Regions from separate parts of the Homo sapiens genome. Here region 1 is linked to region 2. Evidence: fine-mapped expression QTL. A gene starts in region 2. The other region holds a variant in brackets. All regions are shown on one strand. Distances are between the middles of the regions. Region 1 has its middle 34 kb from the start of CCDC32. Region 2 holds the start of CCDC32 (coiled-coil domain containing 32).

Evidence for each region. PIP is the estimated chance that this variant, and not a neighbour inherited with it, causes the effect. A credible set is the group of variants that fine-mapping cannot tell apart.
Region 1: its variant is the best candidate, but not a certain one, in a credible set for the expression of CCDC32 in whole blood (TOPMed, PIP 0.56).

The regions. Positions count from the first base shown.
Region 1 is chr15:40,527,855-40,533,231 of GRCh38, reverse strand. It overlaps a transcript of CCDC32 not described here, the pseudogene RNU6-516P and the pseudogene MRPL42P5. Among named protein-coding and RNA genes, the nearest start is that of CCDC32, 34 kb to the left of the region's middle. The variant G/A (reference allele first, on the strand shown) is at 3,242.
Region 2 is chr15:40,562,136-40,567,512 of GRCh38, reverse strand. CCDC32 (coiled-coil domain containing 32) reads left to right here and starts at 2,471. Exons shown (of 4, transcript NM_001080792.4): 1 at 2,471-2,537; 2 at 4,486-4,741. The coding sequence starts at 4,498. RefSeq lists a silencer at 117-296 and enhancers at 1,249-1,543, 2,023-2,072.

The sequences.
Region 1 (5,377 bases), 34 kb after region 2:
CAACTAGAATGTAAGTTCCATTTTGTCTATTTAATTTGCTGATGTGTTCCCAAGACTAGAACAGAGCCTGGGGCATAGCAGGATCATGAGGGTCAAACAAGATAATGCCTGTATGTAGCCTGTGGTGGGCAGCACCTGGTACAGAGCTCATGATGAACCATTATCCTCTTCCTCTTACATGTCCACCAACAGGAGAATAGAAATTATGATATATAATATTGTAAATTGGCCAGGTGCAATGGCTCATGCCTGTAATCCCAACACTTTGAGAAGCTGAGGCAGGAGGATTGCTTGAGCACAGGAGTTTGAGACCAGCCTGGGCAACATGGTGAAACCCCCTACCTCTACAAAAAATAAAAAAAATTAGCCAGGTCTGGTGGCACGCGCCAGCCTGAAGTGGGAGGATCAACTGAACCCGGGAAGTCGAGGCTGCAGTGATCTGTGATCATGCCACTGCATTCCAGCCTGGGTGACAGAGTGAGATTCTCTCTCAAAAAAAAAAAAAAAAAAAAAAAAAGAAAGAAAACAAATTCAAGTAAAACAATTAAATTATAAATCATTAAAATTATAATTACAAAGAATATGCAGCAGTATGGAACAGTTTATAACTAATGTTAAGTGAAAAAAAGCAGACTACAAATTTGTCCATGATTACAACTGGGTAAAAATAATTTAAGATCTATGCAAAAATAAGGAGACAAGATGATGGGCTCATGGTGAACAGCTGTGAAGCAGGGATGAAAATTAATGTGCCCAGAAGCAGATTCTCTTTGAAGCATCTTTTTTCATACTACCTGATAAGTGTCTTGCTACATGGCAGTAGCAGCAGTAAGACGGGTGATATCAAAGAGAACTATCTGGAAACATTTATCTTCAATCCAAAATGGAGCCTTATGTTTGTCATAAATCTACGTACTCTTCTTTTCCAGGTGACTACAATTGCAAAGTAGAATTTGCTTTGACACCTGATGCCAGGACAATAGTATGTTACCATCCTTCTATAGACATTCCATATGAACGCACAAAACCTATCCCTTGACCAGATCCTGTGTATAATAATGAAGAAACACATGGTCAAGTGCTGAAAACTAGAGAAGAAAAAAGTGAACACCTTGAGCGAGAACCCATAATAGAACAACTTAGCAAAATGTTCTTTATGCTAAGTACGGTTGGCATCTTCGTGGACATTAGCACAGATGTCAGAAGAAACCGGAACCTCCAGAAGACAGATGATATTGAGGTTCTTGGGGAATTAAAGAGAAATATTACCCTCTGCCTCATTTGCCATTGGAGACAGTGCAATCTGGTGTATGCACTAATAATAATAATAACATGTCTTTTCATATTTAAAAAAAAAACACAAAATCTTTAGGAAGCCGAGGTGGGTGGATCGCTTGAGTCAGGAGTTTGAGAGCAGCCTGAGCAACATAGACCCCATCTCTAAAAAAAATTAGCCAAGTGTGGTGATGTGTGTCTGTGGTGCCAGCTACTTGGAAGGCTGAGGTAGGAGGATTGCTTGAGCTCAGGAGGTTGAGGCTGCAGAGAGTGGTGATCATGCCTCTGCATTCCAGCCTTGGTGACAGAGCAAGACCCTGTCTCAAACAACAACAACAACAAAAATCAAAATCTATGCAAAATTTAAACCCAATCTTGCGCTAGTCTTGTGGGAATGAAGATTAATTTACCTAAAAATGCTCCTCTGGTTTTTGTAATTCTTTTTGTTACTTTTTAAAAATATAAATTTGGCCAGGCACGGTGGCTCACACCTGTAATATCAGCTACTCGGGAAGCTGAGGCAGGAGAATCGCTTGAACCTGGGAGGCGGAGGTTGCAGTGAGCCGAGGTCCCGCCACTGCACTCCAGCCTGGGTGACAGAGTGAGACTCTGTCTCAAAAAAAAAATAAAAAAAAAGAAATATAAATTTAAGGGGTATAGGTGAAGTTTTGTTACATAGATATATTACACAGTGTTGAAGTCTGGGCTTTTAGTGTAACCATCATCTAAATAATGCACATTGTACCCCCTGATTTCCTATCCTTCACCCACCTCCCACCCTCCTACCCTCCCAAGTCTCCAGTGTCTACTATTCCACACTCTGTGTTCATGTGTACACATTTAGCTCCCACTTATAAATGAGAACATGCAGTAAAAAATATGGAACACTTCACAAATTTGCATGTCATCTGTATCAGTCCACTTTGCATTGCTCTAAAGGAATATCTGGCCAGGTGCGGTGGCCCATGCCTGTAAACCCAGCACTTTTGAAGGCTGAGATGGGTGGATTGCTTGAGCTCAGGAGTTCAAGACCAGCCTGGGCAACATGGCAAAACCCTGTTTCTACAAAAAATACAAAAATTAGCCGGGTGGTGGCGCACGCCTATAATCCCAGCTACCCAGGAAGCTAACTAAGGTGGGAGTATCACTTGAGCCCGGGAGTCAGTTCCAAGATTGTGCCACTGCACTCCAGCCTGGGTGACAGAGTGAGATCCTGTCTCAAAAAAAAAAAAAAGGAATACCTGAGACTGGGTAATTTATAAAGAAAAGTGGTTTATTTGGCTTACGGTTCTACAGGCTGTATGAGAAGCATGGCACCAGCATCTGCTGCTGGTGAGGCCTCAGGAAGCTTACAATCATGGTGGAAGGCAAAGCGGACCTAGTGTGTCACATGGCAAGAGAGGGACCAAGCAAGAGAGAGAGAGAGGAGGTGCCAGGCTCTTTTAAACAACCAGAGAGAGAGAGAGAGGGAGAGAGAGAGAAAAAGAGAGAGGAGGTGCCAGGCTCTTTTAAACAACCAGATCTCACGTGAACTCAGAGTGAGAGCTCACTCACTACCATAAGGACAGTACCAAGCCATTCATGAGGCATCTGCTCCCATGACCCAAACATCTCCCATTAGGCCCACCTCCAACATTGGAGGTCACTTTTTTTTTTTTTTTTTTTGAGATGTAGTTTCGCTCGTTGCCCAGGCTGGAGTGCAATGGCACAATCTTGGCTCACTGCGACCTCTACCTCCCAGGTTCAAGTAGTTCTCCTGCCTCAGCCTCCCAAGTAGCTGGGATTACAGGCATGTGCCACCACGCCTGGCTCACTTTTTGTATTTTTAGTAGAGATGGGGTTTCACCATGTTGGCCAGGCTGGTCTCGAACTCCTGACCTCAGGTGATCCACCCACCTTGGTCTCCCAAAACGCTGGGATTGCAGGTGTGAGCCATCACGCCCGGCCTGAGGTCACATTTTAACAC[G/A]AGATTTGGAAGGGACAAAGCATCCCAACCGGCTGGGCGCAGTGGCTCACACCTGTAATCCCAGCACTTTGGGAGGCCGAGGCAGGCAGATCACAAGGTCAGGAGATCGAGACCATCCTGGCTAACACACTGAAACCCCGTCTCTACTAAAAACACAAAAAATTAGCCAGGCGCAGTGGCGGGTGCCTGTAGTCCCAGCTACTCAGGAGGCTGAGGCAGAAGAATGGTGTGAACCCGGGAGGCGGAGTTTGCAGTGAGCCGAGATCGCGCCACTGCACTCCAGCCTGGGCGATAGAGCGAGACTCCGTCTCAAAAAAAAAAAAAAAAAAAACCATCCAAACCATCTGATCATCCTTGCGCAGGGGCCATGCTAATCTCTGTATGTTCCAATTTTAGTATATGCACTGCGGGAAGAGAGTACTCACTTTTTATTTTGATACAATTTCAAACTTACAGAAAAGTTGAATGTACAAGGAATTTCCAAATACCTTTTCCCCAGATTCACTGACGTTACCACATTATGTGCATGTGCTTGCTCTCTCTCCCTCTGCTTTTTCTCTCTGCATATAAACGCATTTCCTAAGAATAAACACATAACCAACCAAAGAATAGAGTTTCTATTATTTGTACTATTTTCACAAATAAAAAGACTGAGGAAAGGTGTGCTCTTTTCCTGTGATCCTGGGCCACAATTTCACCAGGTTCAGGATGCAAGGCCCTTTTCTGTATTCTTCGGACCTCTGTCATCTGAAAACACCGGCAAACCACCACTCCAGTGATGCTGCCATGTGTTAAGCTTCCCCTTAAGACCCCTGGCAGAGAGTAGCATATTGTGCACCAAGGTTGTGTGGGAAAAGGGGCTGAGATGAAGCCACCCCTGCAGAGCGGCAGCTTCTAGTGTACGTGTGGGTCCACAGAGGTTTCTGTGACCCTGGAAGCCTGTCCAGCTGAGCTGACCTTCACCAGGGAAGAGAATCTCCAGACAAAGGCACTTAGCTGCCTACTGGGTCCCCACCGAAAGACTGCTGAAAATATTTCTTCAGAATGCTGAGCGCTGAATACCACTCAGCACGTGCTGGAGCCAGAGGTGGTTAGACACGAGTCTGTCCTTGGAAATCCCAGGCTCAGAGCCACCATTATGCAAAGAGGACTGTTGAGGGGTTTTCTTTTACTTTTCTTTTCTTCTCTTTTTTTTAATAGTTTTTTGAGAAATGGGATCTGTGCTAAGGGCTTTGGGCAGGCCAGCTAGGAGGACGGAAGAAGTTTCCCATTCGCTTGTGGACAAGGCCTGCACCCATATAATCAACTCCAACCCACCTCCGTCATCACCAGGGTAACATCCCTGCCCAATCTCTCCTCAGGCCTTCTGCATTACCAGACCTGGTGTCTTCCCCTCCCTGGATTTGAGGGCCCTGGACTCTTTGCAGCCTCTACCTCATGCCCAACCAGGACAAGCCTTGAGCACAGGCAAAACAGATTCCACAGTCTGCATCCCATGGCAAAGAATTTCATGTCATTCCCTCCTCCACTCCTCCCTTGGTCTGGCCTTGCCTTGAGACCCAGTCCTGGCTCCACGCAAGCTCCAGGGTTAATGATGGCCTTGCCTCTGCTACTCTTCCCTTCACTCTCAGACTCCCCCACCCCCTGGGCTGTTACTTCTTAACTTTTTGATTTAGAGAAGTTAGTCTCTCTGGGCCTGTTTCCTCATCTGAAAAAATGAGATAATGACATTTACCTTAGAGGGTGGTGGTGAGGGAGAAAGAAGACCAAGTGTGTGAACGTACATGACTGACCGTGCAAGTGTTAGCCAAATCCGAATCTTCCCCATGAGAGCGGCCAGAGCTTCGCCTCTCTCAGTTTACACTTTAGAAGTGCCCTGTGCTGAAGGTTGTAAACTGCTCAGTCAGTATCGACCGCTGAGGCTGATTTCTGTTGAAAAGATTATTGCCCATTTTTATCTATCAAATTGACAAAATTACTGAAGATAGGCCACAGGGAGTAGGGGAAAGGGCCTTCTTGTACACTAGTAGTAGCGGAATGAATGGGTACAATCTTGATACCTGGTATCTTAGTCTGTTTTCTGTTGCTTATAACAGAATATCTAAAACTGAGCAATTTATAAAGAAAAGAAGTGTA
Region 2 (5,377 bases):
TTTAACATGATCCTCAGGTGATTTTTCTGCATATTAAAGCTTGAGAAGCACTGGCATAGACCATGTAGAGTAGACATTTGTCATATTCTGTAAACATCCAGCATCTTCCGAACACCCTTCTTTTGGGTGGGGAATTTCTCACATTTCATTACTGCCCCCAAAAGGTAGAAGCCAGAGCCTTCCCACACTCTCTTGCAGCTTGGACATAGGCATTTGACCTGGGCTCTATCTCTTAGACAGAGGCTTTGGTTCAGAGGCACACAGCCGCGGAAGCAGGCTCAGTGTGAAATCCGTGTCTAACAAGGTAGCATTGGAGGCATCTAATCTGGGAGGCCAACAGTCGGGGAGGTTCTTGTGTCAAGTACCCAATCGACGAATAATGCCAGCTATAGATGTTCAGTGGCTGTGGGGTGTTCCCTGAGCAGTCTCTCAGTGAGATTCAGATACTGTCCCTGGCTGTATAGACCTAAAGCCTGACTCTCCACTCACCTTGAGGTTCTGTGAACTATGTAATATTCTCCAATCCTGTGCTATACAATAGGATCACCATTAGCCATGTGCTGTACAATAGCCACATGTGGCTAATTAAATTTAAATTAATTAAAATTTTAACAAGTTTTGAAACAAGATCTCACTCCCATCACCCAGGCTGGAGTGCAGTGGCACGATTTTGGCTCACTGCAGCCTTGACTTCCCAAACTGAAGTGATCCTCCCACCTCAGGCTCCCTAGTAGCTGAGACGACAGACATGTGCCACCATGACTGGCTAATTTTTTGTATTTTTAGTAGAGACGAGGTTTTGCCACATTGCCTAGGGTGGTCTCAAACTGGGCTCAAACAATCCATCCACCTTGGCCTCCCAAAGTGTTAGGATTACAGGCCGGATGTGGTGGCGCAACCTCCGCCTCCTGGGTTCAAGTAGTTCTCCTACCTCAGCCTCCTGAGTAGCTGGGATTACAGGCATGCGCCTCCACGCCCAGTTAATTTTTGTATTTTTAGTAGAAACAGGGTTTCACCATGTTGGCCAGGCTGGTCTCGAACTGCTGATCTCAGGTGATCCACACCCCCTCAGCCTCCCAAAATTCTGGGATTACAGGCATGAGCCACCAAGCCCGGCCAGGAACTGAATTTTAAATTGTATTTTAGCTGGGCGCAGTGGCTCACATCTGTAATCCTAAAACTATGTTGTTTTTGTTGTTGTTGTTTTCTTTTTCTTTCTTTCTTTTTTTTTTTGAGACGGAGTCTTGCTCTGTCACCCAGGCTGGAGTGAGAACTATTTCCTCAGCCAAGTTACTTGGCTACTGATGGTTGGCTGATGTCTTTCATCACGTGTTTCTTGGGAGAGAGTAACTGGTGTTGATCCTGGAAGCTGGGGATGGGGAGGGGTCGATCTCAATGAACAAGCTGGTATCTATCCCCTGAAGGATATCAAAGGTCATCTCCTTTAACAACTACAACAACAAAGCATTCTGACACACACTTCTTATGACCACTCTCTCCTTTATGTACTCTGGCCACACTTCCATCATATACTCTATAATCCTCAACGCCCCCCTCCTTTTTTTTTTTTGAGACAGTCTTGCTCTGTTGCCCAGGTTGGAATGCAGTGGTGCGATCTTGTCTCACTGCAACCTCTGCCTTCCCGGTTCAAGCGATTCTCCTGCCTGAGCCTCCCGAATAGCTAGGATTCCAGGCATGTGCCACCATGCTCAGCTAATTTTTGTACTTTTAGTAGAGACAGAGTTTCACCATGTTTCACCCAGGCTGGTCTCGAACTCCTGACCTCAGGTGATCCACCTGCCTCGGCCTCCTAGAGTACTGGGATTACAGGCGTGAGTCACCGCGCCCGGCTGTCTATCACTGTTTACTGTTATTTGTAAACTTTTATGCCTCCATGGCGGACCCCCTTCCTACACTACTAAGCTGTAAGGATCTCCAGGACTTATATCAAGTCATATGTGTCTTAACTTCACGCTTAACACAATGCTTAGAACACAGCAGGTGCTTGGTATCTATTGACTAAATGAATGAAGGAAAGCTTCATAATTTGATGAATGAGACACGAGTCTCCTGGGAGAGTAAGGAAAGAAGCCGCCGAAGTGCTCTAATTTGGGTAACGAAGGGGTGAAATTTTTAGAAGACAAACACCGACAGAGAAAGTTGTGGAGGAGGTGAACTGGCTCCGGCGACTAGGAAAAGTCAAAAGTCTTGGAAACGACTTCCCTATCCAAGCAGGGACTGGAACCCTGGATCTGCAAGGAATCAACCTGGCCCTCGGGAGGGGAGGGGCAATGCTCAGGGCACGTGACTCCACCGTTTCCCGGCAACCAGAGCCCCGTCCACCGCTCGCCTCTTGCTGCTCCTCACTTCTTCACCACGCTGAGCTCCTCTCGACCAATCGACGCACAGAACATCGTCGGGTGGGAAGGTAGTTGGAGGACTCCTGGGCTCCGTCACTAGGGGACTCCGCCCCTCCCGATTTCCTCCGGGCTACAGGCGACAGAGCTGAGCCAAGCGTTTACTGGGCAGCTGTTACGGTAAGTGAGGAGGGGCTGGGGTGCCCAGCGTTTTGGATCTCCCACTCTGGCCCGGCCCCGGAATACCACATAGAGGCCTTGGGACCTGATTCATCCCGTCCAGACAGCCCTAGAGACCTGAGCGACTGAGGCCTGGGATCTGGACGCCGGAATTTCCTGCGTGGTTCTGGACGCCCTGCCCTGGGGTAAGGGGCCATGCGGGGCTCTGGTGTGAGCAAAGTTTTGGTTTTGGGTGGCTTTAGACGAATTCGGGTTGGGGGTTCACTGTAGCGCTAGACATCAGTTCACCCAGGACCGCCGTGTCATAGCTGTCCCTTTTACTTCCGGCCTTTACGCTGGCTGGGCTCTGTCTCCTGGCATTATTCAGACCTTGCCTCAGGCAGCCTTCCTGATTTCTAAGTCTCCTCTTGAAAGAAGGTGTCAGCCTGTCTCATATGCCTAGATAGTTATAAAAGCCTCCAGGCTCTTTGCGTAGCTTTTCCTACCTGCCCGTGCTTGGGCTGCTTTCGTTATATTTTCCAAACAAGCAGGATGGTATTTGATAAAAACATGGATTCTGGAGCAGCACAGATCTGGTTTTCCTGTCAAGGATTCCCCACATATCAGTAATGTGCCCTAGAGCAAGTTACCCTTCTGAACTTGTTTTTTCATCTGTAAAATGGTGAAAATACCTACCTTTCAGTGATTGTATTAAAATAAGAGCATGAGACATACGGCTGAACTGCATGCGCTGAGCACACAGCCCTTGCATTGTAACAGTACTCTCTGACAGACACTTTTTACCAAGCAGGATCTTCATGTATATGGAACTGTGGAAAGACCTTTAGTCTGTGTTCTGTTGAAAACAGAATTTAGGGGCCGGGCGCGGTGGCTCACGCCTGTAATCCCAGCACTTTGGGAGGCCGAGGCGGGCGGATCACAAGATCAGGAGATCGAGACCACCCTGGCTAAACGGTGAAACCCCGTCTTTACTAAAAAATGCAAAAAATTAGCCGGGCGTGGTGGCGAGTGCCTGTAGTCCCAGCTATTTGGGAGGCTGAGGCAGGAGAATGGCGTGAACCCGGGAGGCGGAGGTTGCAGTGAGCCAAGTTAGCGCCACTGCACTCCAGCCTGGGCGACAGAGCGAGACTCTGTCTCAAAAAAAAAAAAGAAAGAAAGAAAGAAAAAAAAACAGAATTTAATTGACTGGAGATAGAACTGTTGCATTTTGGAGATCTTTGGAGAAAAGTGCAGGCTGGTTGTCCAACCTGGAAATGCCCTACAGATTTGTGTGTGTGTGTGTGTGTGTGTGTGTGTGTTAAAATATATGTAGCATAAAATTGACCATTTTAACTATTTTTGTGTGTATGATTCAGTGGTGTTCACATTGTTGTGCAACCATAACTACCATCCACCTCCAGAACTTTTTCATTTTCCCAAACTGAAACTGTGTACCCATTAAACAGTAATTCCCCATTCTTTCTACCTCCCAGCCCCCAGCTCCCACCATCCTATTTTCTGTATCTATGAATTTGACTACTCAGGTACCTTATATAAGTGGAATCACAGTATCTGCCTTTTGTGTATGGCTTGTAGGAATTCCATTTTTATTTTTATTTTATTTATTTATTTGTGAGACAGGGCCTCGCAATGTCACCCAGGCTGGAGTGCAATGGCGTGATCACCACTCACTGCAGCCTCTATCTCCTGGGCTAAGGTGATCCTCCTACCTCAGCCTCCGGAGTAGCTGGGACTACAGGCATGTGCCACCACACCTGTCTAATTTTTGTATTTTTAGTAGAGATGGGATTTTGCCATGTTTCCCAGGCTGGTCTCGAACTGCTGGCCTCAAATGATCTGACTGCCTCGGCTTCCCAAAGTGTTGGGATTACAGTCGTGAGCCACTGTGCTCAACCTTATGCTGTATTCTTAAAGCCAGTTCTTACTCACTTGAGCTTCTGTTTTATAGCTCAGATTCCAAATGAAAATGTTTGAGAGCGCTGACTCTACAGCCACAAGATCTGGCCAGGATCTCTGGGCTGAAATTTGTTCCTGTCTGCCAAATCCTGAACAAGAAGATGGTGCCAACAATGCATTCTCAGACTCCTTTGTGGATTCTTGCCCTGAAGGTGAAGGCCAGAGGGAGGTGGCTGACTTTGCTGTCCAGCCAGCTGTAAAGCCTTGGGCTCCCTTGCAGGATTCAGAAGTGTATTTAGCATCTCTAGGTAAGTTTGACGGCTCTAGGGAAGCATATTGAAGTTCTGTTACATCAAACTTGGTTTCCTATTCTTTTGTGTTGTTGTTATTCCTGTCACACGTATCTGTCAGATATAATTCCAAGGGATGTTTCAAGCCGGCTGTTGGGAAGCAGCCCCCTTTTCCTTGAACAGATCTTTTTTTATTTTTATTTTTAATTTTTTGAGACTTTCACTCTTGTTGCCCAGGCTGGAGTGCAGTGGCGTGATCTTAGCTCATGGCAACCTCCACCTCCCGGGTTCAAGCGATTTTCCTGCCTCAGCCTACCGAGTAGCTGGGATTACAGGCGCCTGGCACAATGCCCGGCTAATTTTTTGTATTTTTAGTAGAGATGGGGTTTCATTTCACCATGTTGGCTAGGCTGGTCTCGAATGCCTGACCTCAGGTGATCCACCTGCCTCGGCATCCCAAAGTGCTGGGATTACAGGCATGAGCCGCCGTGACTACCCGAACAGCTCTTAAAACAGTTTTTGTCACTTCCTGCCTCTGCCCAGTTCATCTAAATTCTGTGTTTGATTTCTTGGCATTCTGTAGAACCCTCTTGCCTACTGTTGGTTGCCCGTATATTCAAATAACTCAAAAGTGTTAAACCTTATGCCATCCTG